2 separate regions of the Homo sapiens genome follow, and region 1 is linked to region 2. A link means that fine-mapping ties the variant in region 2 to the expression of a gene that starts in the linked region. Tissue or cell type: whole blood. Region 2 holds a variant in brackets; the other region holds the start of a gene. All regions are shown on one strand. Distances are from middle to middle.

Region 1 (8,102 bases), 22 kb before region 2:
TAAGCACACTGCAGGGTGGAATCTGGGTTAGAGAAAATGGTCAGGGAGACCAGTGGAGAAATGTAATGATTCCACTGTGGCAATGGAAATGGAAGAATGCAATTCAAGAGCTATTTGTTTTTTTATTTTTTATTTTTGAGACAGAGTCTTGCTCTGTCACCCAGGCTGGAGTGCAGTGGTGCAATCTTGGCTCATTGCAACCTCCGCCTCCCGGATTCAAGCCATTCTCCTGCATCAGCCTCCTGAGTAGCTGGAATTACAGATGCCCACCACACCCGGCTAATTTTTTTAATTTTTAGGAAAAACGGGGTTTTACCATGTTACCCAGGCTGGTCTCAAATTTCTAACTCAGGTGATCCACCCACCTCGGCCTCCCAAAGTGCTGGGATTACAGGCATGAGCCACCGCGCCCGGCCCTCAAGAGCTATTTAGAACCTCCTTAAAAACCAGAATGTGACGGATGAGAGATGAAAGGCAGATGTCAAAGACAGCTTAAGTTTCACTCCTAAGGAAAATCAGGACAAGCCAGTCTGGGTATTGGCTGATGGGTTCAGTTGTGAACATGCTGAGCTAGGAGTATCTGACAAATCCAAAGGGAGATGTCCTGAACGCAGGTGGATGTGAAGAGATGGCTGGGCTAAGGATAAAACACTGAGAATGGTCAGCATGGATTAGGAGCCCCCAGAAAGTGAGAACAGAGACAGAACAACGAGGACCACAAACACTAAGGGACAGGCAGAACCCACCCCTCCCCCACCTCAAAAAGACTTCAATGGGGTCTGAGGAAAAAACAAACAAACAAAGAAGGGGAGGCAGAGGCAGAGGTGGTAGGGAGAAGAAACCAGCAAATAAAATAGGGACAGGGCCGGGCACAGTGGCTTATGCCTGTGATCCCAGCACTTTGAGGGGATCACTTGATGTCAGGAGTTCAAGACCAGCCTGGCCAACATGGTGAAACCCTGTCTCTACTAAAAATAACAAAAATTAGCCGAGCGTGGTGGCACGTGCCTGTAATCCCAGATACTCGGGAGGCTGAGGCAGAAGAATCGCTTGAACCCGGCGGGCAGAGGTTGCAGTGAGCCGAGATCATGCCACTTTACTCCGGCCTGGGTGAAAGAGCGAGACTCCATCTCAAAAAAAAAAAAAAGGGGGATAGGGGCCAAGCGTGGTGGCTCACACCTGTAATCCCAGCACTTTGGGAGGCCGAAGTGGGCAGATCACCTGAGCTCAGGAGTTCGAGACCAGCCTGGCCAATGTGGTGAAATCCCATCTCTACTAAAAATACAAAAATTAGCCAGATGTGGTGGTGGGCCCCTGTAATCCCAGCTACTTAGGAGGCTGAGACAGGAGAATCACTGGAACCCGGGAGGCAGAGGTTGCAGTGAGCTGAGATCGTGCCACTGCACTCCGGCCTAGGCAACAAAGAGTGAAACTCCATCTCAAAAAAAAAAATAATAATGGTATAGGGCCAGGCATGGTGGCTCATACCTGTGATCCCAGCTTTTTGGGAGGTGGAGGCTGGAGGATCTCTTGAGCCCAGGAGTTTGAGACCAGCCTGGGCAACATAGGGAGACCCCATTTCTACAAAAAATAAAAAAATTAGCCTGCCATAGTAGCGTGCAGATGTAGTCCCAGCTACTTGGGAGGCTGAGGTGGGAGGATGGCTTGAGCCCAGGAATTCCAGACCAGCCTGGGTAACATAGCAAGACCCCATCTCTACAAAAAATAAAAATTAGCCATGCGTGGTGGTGCATGCCAGTAGTTCCAGCTACTCTGGAGGCTGAGGTGGGAGAATCACTGGAGCCTGGGAGGCGGAGGTTGCAGTGAGTGAAATCACACCATTGCTCTCCAGCCTGGGCCACAGAACAAGACCCTGTCTCAAAAATAAGTAAATAAATGAGGATAATACCAAGAAAAAAGAATATTCAGAGGTGATCAAGACTATCAAATACCACAGAGGCTGAGGCCTGTAGGTGGTCAATGCCTCTGGTTGAAGCTTTTTTAACCAGAGCTAGATTAGCAGAAGAATGAGCTGAAGTGGAAGGGAGGAGGAAAGGCTGGGCCCTCCTTCCACAGATCCTTAAGTAAGCCTCAAGGCCCCGGAGGCCCCAGAGTGACCTAGAACAGACTGGACCATCTCTAAGAAGCAGGGAGCCCTAGTGATCAAACTGCGGCCTGGGAAGCTTGGCACTCTGAGTTCAGATACCAAATTCCCACTTTTAAGCAGGAAGGGGGAAAAGTCACTTAACCTCCTCTGGCTTCAGTTTTCTCACCATTAAACAGGAAAAAAACAATAACATCGTTTTGCTGGGCTGGTACTGGGATTAAAATTTTAAGAGTCAGGGGCCGGGTGCAGGGGCTCACGCCTGTAATCCCAGTACTTTGGGAGGTGGAGGCAGGCGGATCACGAGGTCAGGAGTTCGAGACCAGCCTGGCCAACACAGTGAAACCCCATCTCTACTAAAAATACAAAAAAATACACCACACCAGGCGTGGTGGTGGGTGCCTGGAATCCAAGCTACTTGGGAGGCTGAGGCAGGAGAATCGCCTGAACCCGGGAGGCAGAGGTTGCAGTGAGCCAAGATCGCGCCATTGCACTCCAGCCCTGGTGACCGTGAGAGACTCCATCTCAGAAAAAAAAAAAAGTCAGGGTCTTGCTCCGTCGCCCAGGCTGGAGTGCAATGGTGCGATCACAGCTCACTGCTGCCTTGACCTCCTGGGCTCAAGGGATCCTCCCACCTTAGCCTCCTGAGTAGCTGGGACTACAAGCATACACCACCATACCTGGCTAATTTTTTAAAAAAATTTTTTGTTTTTTGAGATGGAGCCTTGCTCTGTCACCCAGGCTGGAATGCAGTGACACAATCTCGGCTCACTGCAACCTCCGCCTCCCAGATTCAAGCAATTCTGGTGCCTCAGCCGCCTGAGTAGCTGGGACTACAGGCGCACATGACCACACCTGCCTAGTTTCTGTATTTTTAGCAGAGATGGTGTTTTACCATGTTGGCCAGGCTGGTCTGGAACTCCTGACCTCAGGTGATCCACCTGCCTTGGCCTCCCAAAGTGCTGGGATTACAGGTGTGAACCACCTCGCCTGGCCAAAAAACTTTTTTTTTTTTGCAGAGATGGAGGTCTTGCTATGTTGCCCAGGCTGGTCTCCACCTCCTGGCCTCCAATGAACCTCCACCTCAGCCTCCCAAAGTGCTGGGATTACAAGCGTGCACCATGACGCCCAGCTAATTTTATTTGTTGTAGAGATGGGGATCTCCCTATCTTGTCCGGGCTGGTCTTGACCTCCTAAGCTCAAGCAATCCTCCTGCCTCCCAAAGTGCTGACTCCCAAAGTGCTGGGATTACAGGCCTGAGCCACCACACCCAGCTGCAAGCCCGATTTTCCAAATGTATCTCTCCTCTGTTTTTCTCTTTCTTTTTTTTTTTTTTTTTTTTTTTGAGACGTAGTCTCATTCTGTCGCCCAGACTGGAGTGCAGTGGCGCGATCTCGGTTCACTGCAGGCTCCGCCTCCCGGGTTCACACCATTCTCCTGCCTCAGCCTCCCGAGTAGCTGGGACTACAGGCGCCCGCCACTACTCCCGGGTAATTTTTTGTGTTTTTAGTAGAGACGGGGTTTCACCGCGTTAGCCAGGATGGTCTCGATCTCCTGACCTCCTGATCCGCCCGCCTCGGCCTCCCAAAGTGCGGGATTACAGGCCTGAGCCACCGCGCCCAGCCTTTTTTTCTTTTGATAGGGTCTTGCTCTGTCGCCCAGGCCGAATTGCAGTGGGGCGATCACGGCTTACTGCACCCTCAACCTCCTGGCTTCCCAAAGCACTGGGATCACAGACGGGAGCCAACGCCCCGGCCAGTTTTTTCAACGTTGAGAGCCCTGGCCCCTAGATAGGACCCAGCATCCTCACTGCTCTAACCCCTCCCCCCCCACCATCCCCGGGCTGGCCCGGACAACCCCTAAGGTGGCCGAGGGCGGGCCCTGAGGAGGCCGGCGCGCGCTTCCGGGCACAGCTTGTGGCGGTGAAGCCGCTCAGATGGCGGAGGCCTTGGGTATCTCTAAGCAGATCGCTAGGCCGCAGACCTCGGAGCTCGTCTTGGGTCACTTTTATTTATTTTTTTTGAGACGGAGTCTCTCTCTGTCGCCCACGCTGCAGTGCAATGGCGCGATCTCGGCTCACTGCAAGCTCCGCCTCCCAGATTCAAGCAATTCTCTGCCTCAGCCTCCCGAGTGGCTGGGATTACAGGCGCCCGCCACCACGCCCGGCTAATTTTTGTATTTTTAGTAGAAACGGGGTTTCACCATCTTGGCCAGGCTGGTCTTGAACTCCTGACCTCGTGATCCACGCGCCTCGGCTTCCCAAAGTGTGGGAATTAAAGGCGTGAACCACCGCGTCCGGCTTGGGTCACTTTTCGAGTATACAGCTCCTCCTCTCTCCTTCCTCCCTAGGCCCCCACTGCCCCGACTCGCAGGCCGCAGACAAGGCTGAGAGCGCTACCTTGCTTTCCCGCGCTCGCCTCGGTGCCTACTGCGCCTGCGCGAGCTGTGAGGGCGGGACCCAGAGACACCCGCCCCAACTACTGGCGTGCGCCCTCTGCTGTCGCCTAACGGAACTCCGGGCGCGCGTGCGCACGCACCCCAAGCCACGCCCCGCCAGGCTGCCGGCGCGCGAGCGGTTGGCGCCGCTCCCTGCCTTCCCTCTCCTACAGTGGGGCGGGGCCGGGCCGCCCGAGTCGGGGGTGGAAGGCGGGGGCCACATAATGCCACGCCCCCGCCTCGTCCCCATTTGAAGCCCCGCGACTCTTCACTGCTGGTCAATCAGAGCCCGTGCTCTCCCTAGTGCCGGCCAATGGGAGGTGCGCTCGGGCTGCTTCCGGCTCCGCGCTCCGCTCGCCCCCTCCCAAGGTCTCCCCGCGACTGGCGGGACGCAGGGGCGGGCGTCGGCCGCGGTGACGCGCAGCGGGCCTGGAGCCAATAAGGGGCGGGCTCGGTGCTGATGGACGGTGCTGGTGGCCAGTGGAGAGGCGCTGGCCGCACTTCCCGTCGGGGAGAGAGTGTAATATGGCGAAGACCTACGATTACCTGTTCAAGCTGCTGCTGATCGGGGACTCGGGGGTGGGGAAGACCTGTGTCCTGTTCCGCTTCTCCGAGGACGCCTTCAACTCCACTTTTATCTCCACCATAGGTAACGGGACCGGGGAATGGCTGGGGGCGCCGGAGGCCCGGGCTGGGCGCGCCCCTGAGGGGCTGGGGCTGAGGGATCTACAGGGCTGGACGGGCCGAGGGCGCTGAGAGGGTCGAGGGGGCCTAAAGGGAGAAGAGCAGTCGCCTGCACCGCCGTTCGGGGGTTCCTGGGCCGTGGTGGGGGAGACCAGGTGCCCATTTTGCAGATAGGGAGACTGAGGCTCCGACCCTCAGCCCGCTCGTTAGGGCGTGTTATGTCTTGGGCTGGGGTCTTCGCGCCCGTCCTCTCGATCTGTCCTAGCAGCAGCCCTCGAAGCGGTTCTTTTGAGGCTCTTGCCTTACAGAAGTGGAAACTGAGTCATGGGGAATTGGCCATGGGAAAAAGACAGTGGCATCTCACCTTAATGAGCATTTACTATGTGCCAAGTGCTTCACGTGCATTTTCACACTCTTCAGTTCTTGGTGTTAAGTGCTGTTATGAGCCCGTCTGACAAGATGAGGAATCTGAGGCTCAGGGAGGGCATGGAACTTGCCCAAGGCCACACAGTCTGCACGTGGTGAGAATGGGATTTGATGGAATTTGAACCTGGCTGTGTCTCAACCCAAAACTCGAGGCTTAGCTCTCCTAGAGAGATGCCACTGCACACTCCCAGCTGATGACAAGCTCAGCTAATGCACCTTGGAGCCGGGACTCTAACCCACACCATTCCTGCTCTTTTCTCTGGAGCGTTCAGAGGTTGAGCCCCTCTCCCTGACCATGCTTCCCCTCATAAGCGTATTTTCCTCTAGAAGGAATGATAAGAAGAGTCAGGACCTTTTCCCTGCCCACCTTTCATCCTGCTCCAGGAATGACAGCAATGGCAAGTGACAGCACTGCCTGCCCTGGGACCTGTCATCCCCAAGAAGATGCAAGATAAAAGCCTCAGCGAGAAACTAAATCAGCCACTGCCACAGACAGCCTTGACTTCCCTATCAAAGGGCCCAAGACTCCAGCTGTCACTTTAGAACAGCTTTTCCTGTAGGGCCAGCCCACATTGTGGTTGAACAGAATTGGCTTGGTGCATCTCAGTTGTGATGTCCACAGAAGTGGAGCTGACCTCTCTCAGTGCCACAAAAGCAGTCCTGGCCCACAATGAAAAGGTTTGACCCAGGAGTAACACCTATTTGAGTGGCTTGTGAGCTCTGTAGCCCTGCTAGGGATGGGGAAAGTGGGGGAACGGTCACTAAGTCCAGGAGTTTATTCCGACTCAAGAAAACCTAGGGAATGGCCTTTGCTTTACTGTGTCACTTTGACAGAATCGTGTTATCTCCCTGAACCCCAAGATAATGTGCTAATTCCATTCTTGCCCTCCTCCAGGAGCTATGCTTTATTTATTTTATTTTATTTTATTTTTTGAGACGGAGTCTAGCTCTTTTGCCCAGGCTGGAATCCAGCGGCAGGATCTCGGGTCACTACAACCTCTGCCTCCCGGGTTCAAGCAATTCTCCTGCCTCAGCCTCCCTAGTAGCTGGGATTATAGGCACCCGCCACCACGTCCAGCTAATTTTTGTATTTTTAGTAAATACAGGGTTTCACTGTGTTGGTCAGGCTGGTCTCGAACTCCTGACCTTGTGATCTGCCTGCCTTGGCATCCCAAAGTGCTGGGATTACAAGCATGAGCCACCGCACCCAGCGGAGCTGTGCTTTATAAAACAGTTATATGCCAGATGTAAAATAGAGAGAATTGACTGGAAATCATTACGTCTGGTTTCCAGTTGCTGTTTGCCCTTGAATGTGCACTACCCCTCTCTGAGCCCTGCTGTCTTTAGAGCAGGAGTGACACTGTCTGCCCAGCCTAGTGCCCTGGTGGTTGAGGATTAGAATTAGACAATAAGGGGTTGTCACCACAACCAGAGGCTATCTAGAGGAAGCAAATGAATGGCTCCTGCAGTGACAGCATCCAGCCTCTGAAGACAGATGTTTCTGAATTCTTCCCCCTCCCCCACTCCAAGGCTAAACTTTAGGGTAATTCTTGTGCTCCAACCAATCAAGAAGTGGCGTTAATTCAGCCTGGGCAACATGGCAAACCCCATCTCTACAAAAAATAAAATAAAATCAGCCGGGCACAGTGGCTCACCCATGTAGACCCAGCCACTTGGGAGGCCAAGGTGGGAGGATCGATTGAGCCCAGGAGGTCAAGGTGCAGTGAGCTGTGATGGTGTCACTGCACTCCAGCCTGGGCAACAGAGCGAGACCCTGTCTTAAAAAATAATAATAAAAATAAAAGAAAGAAAGAAATGATGTTAACTGTGAGCAGACTGGCTTGCATTCACTCAGATCCCAGTTTCCCAGCCTTCCCCACAAACCCCCCTCTTTTTTTTTTTTTTTTTTTGAGACAGTCTCTCTTTGTCACCCAGTCTGGAGTGCAGTGGCGCGATCTCGGCTCACTGCAACTTCCACCTCCCAGGTTCCAGCGATTCTCCTGTCTCAGCCTCCCAAGTAGCTGGGATTACAAGCACCTGCCACCATGCCCAGCTAATTTTTGTATTTTTTTTTTTTTTTTTTTAGTAGAGATGGGGTTTCACCATGTTGGCCAGGCTGGTCTCGAACTCCTGACCTCGTGACCGCCCACCTTGGCCTCCCAAAGTGCTGGGATTACAAGCATGAGCCACCGCGCCCAGCCCAACCCCCCTCTTTAGAGTTACTTTGAGCTTTAAAGAGGCTTTCTTCCATTTGCAGATGAGGATGTGACTTGGTGAAAGTTACCTAGCAAGGTGGAGGTGGCACCTGACCCTAAGATCCCTCCCTCCCACCCCTTCATTCCCCTCCTTCCATTTGTAGCCTTCTGTCTTCTAGGAAAGTCTAATTCACCATGACCTTGAAGGTCAGACCTCATAATTCTTAGGCCTCATAAAGTTTACACTTCCTAATTAA
Region 2 (8,082 bases):
CCTGGGGAATAGGCACGGTTTTACAGGTGAGGAAACTAAGGCTCAGAAAGACCCAGCTCTGTGTTTACCCTCTCAGCCACACCACTCACCCTGGAGAGGCCCCTGTCAAAAAAGCCCAGACATAGCAGGGAGCCCTGATGGGACCTGGGCCCATGCCACCCTCCCCTCTCCACGGGGCGACCCCAGCCCTGCGGCCGATCCTGTGATGTTTCCCCATCCTAGTCATGTTTCCAAGGCGGATCTTCCATATCACTCCCGACCTAAAGTCTCTATGCTGACGTGAAGACAAAGGCTAGACTCCTTGCCTGGCGTGGAAGGCCCTCCCTCACCGGCTACAGCTGGTGTTTGCCACCCAGGGCTCAGGCCTTGCCCTCCCCAGGCCACCTGGGCTGCTCCCTTCTCCAATACGTCACTGCATTTCCCTCCTGTGTGCCCCTTTTTCTGCCTGCCAGGTTCCCTTTTCTAGTCAGGGCCTGGCCCTGGGGGCCTCTCCCCAAGAACACCTTCAGTCTCCCCTGGGCCTTCCTCCGCACCCCAAGCCACTCTCCTCTCCAGAACCTCCCACATCATGGGGATGTATGTTGGGATCACGCCTCCCGCCATCTCTGTATGTCCCCTCCTCAAGGCTGTGACAGCAGCTCAACCCTTGGCTGTGCTGGGAGATGAACCTGCTCCCGCTCCCAGCCCTGCCAGGCAAGGACTCCGAGTGAAGCTTGTTTGGCCACAGAGCTGCTTGCCTTTTTCCCTGACCATCAGAAGGGAGGCCAGAGCTGACAGAACCTAGGAGTCAGAGACAAAGAACTGGGCACTCCTAGATCCTTCTGGATTGGTCGGTTAACTGCTGGGTTCCTTTGGACAAGTCACTTGGCCTCTCTGAGCCTCAGTTTCCTCTCTGGCCAACTGAGTGTCGCCCCATCTCACAGGGCTTAGGGGAGGTGGCACATGCGTAAAGTCCCGTCAATGCTAAGGTGCTCTGCGGAAGTGAGAGTTGATGTCAGAGAGTAAGGGTGGGTGGGAGGCAGAGGGAGCCGGGGAAGGATGAGCTGGGGCCGGACAGGCCAGATGAACCCACTGCCAGAGGCGGGCATCAAAGGGCCAAATGGGAGGCCCACGCCTGGGAAGCTGTCTCACCACACCCGCTGTACACGGGCGGCTGAGGACTCAGGGTCCTGCCATCCCAAGGACTCACAATGTGCTTATTCCACAGGCATTTTTCACTCTCGCCAGAGATATCAAAGCAAAAATGGACAAAAAATTGGTGAGTGTGTGTCCTTCCGAGATCCCCGGGTGGATCTCTGGGATCCAGCCATCGTCGTTAGCAGCAGTGATATGACGTGCCCTAGATCCTGCTTTTTAGGGCCCAGCCAGACCCCATGGGACATTGCTGGGAAAGGGGGAAGAGTTTGCAGGTGTGGCTGGGGCATCAGCATCAGGCAGTGCCAGCCTGGGGACGCTGCCCAAGCAGACAAGGCCGTGCCCGGTGAATCCCCAGGCTAGCAGGGAGCACACGGCCTTTTCCATTCCACTCAAGGGCCAGAAAGACAACATGGTGTGCAAGGACAGAGAGCCATGGCTCGGAGAAAAGCTTCCTAGGTCGCTTGGGCAGGGCCAGGGCTGGTGTCTGATAACTGCTGGCTCATCGTCTTGACAAGCATGGCAGATCAAGAACCTGCCCCCGCTCCACCCCAGCCCCAGATGCTACAAGTTGTGACAGCTCTGCAACCTTCATTGTGTCCCAGGGTTCTCTGAGGCCTCCAGGGAAGTCTGCATGAATCCCTACCCATCTACCCTCTCATTCGTTTCTTGCTTTTTTTTTTTTACCACGTTAGCGATTTCCTAGTCCGCTGCGCTCAGTATCAATGGTGCTTTCTTGATGGAATCAAACACTTCCCTGTACTTTGGGGGCATTTAGTGCCTAAACACCGTAGTGACCCTTCCTCCCTCGCCCTGGTTCCAGCAACTGCCCTTTCCCGGCCATGTTACATTGGTTGTCCAATCGAGGAGCACACGGCGCTCTATTTGTGGGTTAAGTCTGGTCACTTGAGAATGCACATAAAATACAAAATGCCGTTCAAGTTTTACATCTGATGTAAGCAAATCTGTTTTGTAATTCTAAGATGCGGTGTGTTGAACAGTGAGGCATGTGATTGATTTAATAGCAGCTCTTTGGCCATTAAATTAAAATGGGAAACAGTTCATGGAAACCAGTGCACTGACCAACAATAATTTGGGATTTTCTTGCAATTTTTTTTCTTCAGTATAATGGTCAAGGTCTGATTCTTTTTTCTTTTAGTTTTCTTATTAGTTAAAAAAGAGATTTTTTTTTTAGAGTCTCACTTTGCCACCTAGGCTGGAGTGCAGTGGCACCATCACAGCTCACTGCAGCCTTCAACTCCTGGGCTCAAGCAATCCTCCCACCTCCGCCTCCCAAGTAGCTGGGGCTATAAGCACACACCACCATGCCTGGCTAATTTTTTTTCTTTTTCTTTTTTTTTGAGAAGGAGTCTCGCTCTGTTGCCCAGGCTAGAGTGCAATGGTGCAATCCCTGCTCACTGCAACCTCTGCCTCCCAGGTTCAAGCGGTTCTTCTGACTCAACCTCCCGAGTACTTGGGATTACAGGCACATGTCACCACGCCCAGCTAATTTTTGTATTTTTAGTAGAGACGAGGCTTCACCATGTTGGTCAGGCTGGTCTTGAACTCCTGACCTCAGGTGATCCACCTGCCTCGGCCTCCCAAAGTGTTGGGATTACAGGTGTGGGCCACCCCGCCTGGCCATTTTTTCTTTTTTAAGAGGCAGGATCTCACTTGTTACCCAGGCTGGACTCAAACTCCTGGGCTCAAGCAGTTCTTCTGCCTCAGCCTCCCAAAGTGCTGGGAAGGGTATGATGGGGTGGGCAGATAAGTGAGAGAGTGGTTGGAAGGGGTGGTATATAGCAGATGGAAAATAGATCTGTTTCTGAAAAACGAATTATCAGTTGTAAGAGAATTGGATGGATGGGTAGAAGATAATGGATGGATGGTTGGTTGAAAGGGAATAAATCGATGGTTGATTTGTTGGAAGGAGATGGTTGGATAGATAGATGATTGGTTTGTTGGTTGGTTGGAAGGGGATGGATGAATGGTTGGTTGGAAGGAGGTGGTTGCTTGGAAGGGGATGGATGGATGGTTGATTGGTCAGAAGGGGTGGTTAGAAGGAGATGGTTAGTTGGAAGAGGGTGGATGGGGGGAAGGAGATGGATGGGTGGATGGATGGTTGGAAAGGGATGGATGGATGGTTGGTTGGATGAGGTGGTTAGAAGGGGATGGATGGTTGGTTGGTTGGTTGGAAGGGGATGGATGGTTGGAAGAAGATGGATGGTTGGAAAGGGATGGATGAGTGGATGGTTCTTGGTTGGAAGGGATGGATGGTTGGTTGATTGGTTTGTTGGTTGGAAGCAGGTGGATAGACGGATGGAAGGGAATGGGTGAGTGGATGGATGGATGGTTGAAAGGGTATAGATGGATGGTTGGTTGGTTGGTTGGTTGGTTGGTTGGTTGGTTGGTTGGTTGGATGGTTGGAAGGGGACAGCTGGACGGACTGGCAGATGATGGATGGATGGTTTGATGGCTGATTGGTTGGTTGGATGGCTGGAATGGTAATGGATGGATGACCTGGCAGATGATGGATGGATGGTTGGATGGCTCGTTGGTTAGTTGGTTGGTTTGGCTGGTTTGATTGGTTTGGTTGTTTGGTTGGTTGGTTGGTTGGTTGGTTGGATGGTTGGATGGATGGTTAGGTGGATGGTTAGGTGGATGGCTGGTTGATTGTGAGACGTAGTGCTGATTCTCAGTGATAACCTCAGAAAACCTCTTGTGATTTCAGGAAGGCAACAGCCCCCAGGGGAGCAACCAGGGAGTCAAAATCACACCGGACCAGCAGAAGAGGAGCAGCTTTTTCCGATGTGTTCTTCTGTGAGGAACACCGCCTTACTCTGAGCCTCGCTCAGCCCAGCTGACTGTGCCTGTTCTGAGTGAGCCCCTCACTCAGCCGGGGCCCTCCCACCTCCAACGCCCCGCCCACGCCGC[G/A]GCCACCGGGCCCACGGCCACCAGAATGCAATTGAGAAATCGTTTATTTTAGTAACTGTCTGATCTTTTTCAACTTTGGAGATGGAATAAGTTAAAAATTTGCTATTTTTCCTGTAACATCTGCTGAACGGGCCCACCCACACGTTGTATATTCAGAGAGAGAGAGGGAGTCAAGGTGTGACCGTCGACCACAGCCAGTGTCAGGCCTCTGCCTCTGGGCCTTTGCTTTGTGGCCTCACTGCAACACAAAGCTCCACCAGGAGGCTGGTTCACGTCCCCTACCACGGAAGCGAGGTCCCAGAAGGCCAGCGGTGGTTCCAGGAGCAACAGCTCCCAAACCCTGAGCAAGGCAACCGATCGCCAGGACCAGGAAGCATCACCCAGGAGATTTGGCGCCCACTTCCACCTCTTCTCTCAGTTTTGGACAAGTGACAAACCATTTTGCCCCCTCACTCTTCTTTTTTAACTGTTAAACCAAAGGAAAGCACAAATGAAGGAAATCCTGTGTAAAGCATTGAGAAGGAAAGAAGCCTGGAGCAGCCTCTCCTGTCCACAGCCAGGGGTTAGGTCTGCAGGCCCGTCTGCGGTCCCCATCGAGCATCAAGGGGACGCTGTGTGTGCTGCAAGTGACCCCGAAAACAACCACAGCCGTCACATGGTCCTCCTGAAGTTGGGGCACCCTCCTCTCAGCACCAAAATGGCCCCCACTCCTTCGTGTCCTCCCGCTATCTCCAAATCGGACGTTCTTTCTAGCTGAGATTTTTATTTTTCCACATCTGTAGTGCCATGAAGCGATTCTGTCTTTGACTTCCAATGGCAAACCTGGGTGATCGGGAACAAGCACGTTGTACCCTTGGCTGGACATGGCCAAGACACAAGGCATTCCACGGCGGCAAGCTGACCGCACAGCAGTCTGGCTTGATTTTCAGCCGTCATCATTGGGTTCTGTTTTGACAGCTCTGCTGTCCCATAGGGACTGCGACTGGGACCAGGTCAACCACGCCAGGGGGGTGTCACCAGCCTTTTCTTTTTTTCTTTCTTTTTTTTTTTTTCCTCCTTAAGCTGCTGTCAATCCAAACCATTGGCATCATCGTTTCTTTTGAATTAAAACCAACATATCAGCAATAGTCTGCTCTCCCCGGGAATCTCTAACATGCTCTGTTTACATCGATAAATGCACTTAAGGAAAACAAACAAATTAAAGCTCATCTTAAAGTCCAAGGATTTTTATGTCCACATTTTCCCTGTAGGCCACACGGACATGGCCAGGTGCTGGGGGTGGGTCTGGACAAGATGGTAGAGCCCATGGATTACCCCATCGAGCGGCCACCTCAGAGGAGATGCCACCCATCATCAAAAGACTAAATTGGGAAAAGAAGCCTCCTGGCTTGGTGCAGTGGCTCACACCTGTAATCCCAGCACTCTGGGAGGCCAAGGCGGGCTGATCACTTGAGCTCAGGTGTTCGAGACCAGCCTGGCCAACATGGTGAGCCTGCGTCACCTGGCTTCTGGCACACAGCTCGGCCACTGTGTCCCTCCTGCCTCCCTGGCAGGTCCTTCTAGGGGCCCTCTCCTGGCTGGCTTTCCAGGGCATTCCTTCCACTCTATCCAGGGTCCTTCCCAAGACCACACCCAGGTCCAGTCATTCCCTAGGACTTGGCAGAGAGCTGTACTCACAGCCAAGATCACAGCAAAATCAGCAAAGGGAAAAGGCATGCAGAGTGAAGTCCAGAGGCAACCAGACAGAAGCATCCAGAATCCTCTCACAGTGGGGTCACACACCCCATGCTTAACTCCCCCAACAATGAGTTGTAACAACAGGTGTGTAATGTGTCTTTTGTGAAAGCTAGTTGGCAGTTCTGTACCCAGGTGTTTATGGAGCCAGTCACATAGGAACCCTCTACCTGGCACTTATCAGGATTCCAGACTCCTACAAAGAAAGCAGGGGTTTAGCATAAACCGCATCACTTGTACAGAAAGTGTATGAGCCACGCATGTAGGGAAGTTTTAATATCCGTAGGGAACTTTACCAACTGCAGGCCCACCTTGCCAGCAGGCCTTTCTCAGGAAGCAGCCTCAGATCTATTCATTCTTTTCTGCACACACTATGCTTTTAGATAGGCCAGTGGCTTTCAAGCTGCAAATCCAGGCCAGACCCAGGTCGGTTTCACCTGCCACTCTCTATTCCAATTTGAATGTCTCATCGGCACCGTAAGCATAACACAGCCCTGACCCTGGACTCCATCCCTGCCTTCCCCATCGTGCCCACAGCTGACCCCTCCCGAGTTGTAGCCACGACCACCTGGACCTCTGTGACCACTTCCTCATGGGTTTCAGGTCCTCACCTCTGTGTTTCAAACTATTTTCAGAGTGTCCTTACGAAACTGAAATCAGTGTCACCTCCTTGCTTAAAGCTCTCCCCAGGGGCTGGGGTGTGTGGCTTATGCCTATAATCCCAGTGCCTTGAGAGGCAGAGGCAGGGGAATAGCTTGAGGCCAGTTCAAGTTAAAGACCATCCTGGACAACATAGTGAGACCCCATCTCTAAAAAAAAAAAAAAAAAAGTACAAAAATTGGCCGGGTGCAGTGGCGCATGCCTCATCCCAGCACTTTGGGAGGCCGAGGTGGGTGGTTCACCTGAGGTCAGGAGTTCAGAGTTCAAGACCAGCCTGGCCAATATGGCAAAACCCCATCTTTACTAAAAATACAAAAATTAGGCATGGTTGCACGCGCCTGTAGTCCCAACTACTCAGGAGGCTGAGGCAGGAGAATCGCTTGAACCTGGGAGGCAGAGGTTGCAGTAAGCCGAGATTGCGCCACTGCACTCTAGCCTGGGTGACAGAGCAAGACTCCGTCTCAAAAAAATAAAAAATAGTATGGTGGCATGCACCTGTAGTCCCAGCTACTCAGGAGGCTGAGGAGGGAGGATCACTTGAGCCCAGGAGTTGGAGGCTGCAGTGAGCTGTGACCACACCACTACATTCCAGCCTGGGTGACAGAGCAAGACCCTTTCTCAAAAAAAAAACAAAAAACCTCCCCAGGTCTTCCTTGGGCTTAGGGATACAACTTACGCCCCTCACCGTGGGGCACAAGCCTCTACACGCTGCAGCCATAGCCCTGCCTACTCCTTCCTCTTTCTCTGGCTGCCCTTCCTGGCTCACTCCACTCCAATCCTCTCCTTCCTTACTCCTTCACTCCACACTCATCACTGAGAAGGCCCCAGGGCCTTTGCACTTGCCACACCCTAGTCTTGTAGTCTCCTGAAATGTGCAAAGCCCACTGTCCATCACATCATGGTTATCCAGGGCTACCTCTGCAGAGGCCTCTCCCAGTCATGCCCTTCTCTCTTCCTAGCTCATCTTCATAGCATTTATGAGAAGTTACCTGTTTTCATTGCCAACCCTGTCCCCACTCAGCCCAAAACCTCCATGAGGACAGGGACTTCTGTAGTGTGCTTGTGTGTGGCCTGAACCCATTGAATTAATGAAGGACACGCAAATGGCCTCTAGGGTGAGCACAAGGGAGGAGACATCCTCTTCCCTCAAAGAAACCAGCTTCCAGGGTTGATCCTGCAGCCTCTGCAGCCTAGGGGGCAGCTCCCCAGGCATTGCAAACTCAGTGGGTTTGGGAACCCCCAGCCACAAACTCCCTTCCCACCTGACCATGCTAGAGGCCTGCCCTGGTGGTCCCTGGCTTAGCTCCCATCAAAATCTCTGTCATCTCTATCCTTGAGCCTCCGAGCACGCACTCAGGAGGACCCTGAATCCTGATACTAAAACTCAAAAGTCACCCCCTGCCACGGATGCCTGATAAATGGCCACTTTGGGAAACTTGCTTTCTTTCCACGAAACTTTGCAGTTTCTGTCCAAAACTGCAAAATTCGGAGACAGTGACAGCCAATGGCAATGAATAGCAGATCCTGACTGGGAACCCATCCTGTGCCTGGCTTTCTTCTGAGCCCTTAATGGGTCACGGATAAGAGGGAGCTGCCTGGGCCCGAATCCCAGCACCACTC

The links. PIP is the estimated chance that this variant, and not a neighbour inherited with it, causes the effect.
Region 1: RAB8A starts here. The variant in region 2 is fine-mapped to the expression of RAB8A in whole blood (INTERVAL, PIP 0.97).

The regions. Positions count from the first base shown.
Region 1 is chr19:16,106,837-16,114,938 of GRCh38, forward strand. RAB8A (RAB8A, member RAS oncogene family) reads left to right here and starts at 5,053. Exons shown (of 8, transcript NM_005370.5): 1 at 5,053-5,189. The coding sequence starts at 5,066. RefSeq lists a silencer at 4,436-5,095.
Region 2 is chr19:16,128,347-16,136,428 of GRCh38, forward strand. RAB8A (RAB8A, member RAS oncogene family) reads left to right here. Exons shown (of 8, transcript NM_005370.5): 7 at 1,208-1,258; 8 at 3,866-5,888. The coding sequence ends at 3,958. All of the region lies in intron 1 of HSH2D-AS1 (HSH2D and RAB8A antisense RNA 1), which reads right to left. It also overlaps a transcript of HSH2D not described here. Among named protein-coding and RNA genes, the nearest start is that of HSH2D-AS1, 7.5 kb to the right of the region's middle. The variant G/A (reference allele first, on the strand shown) is at 4,069.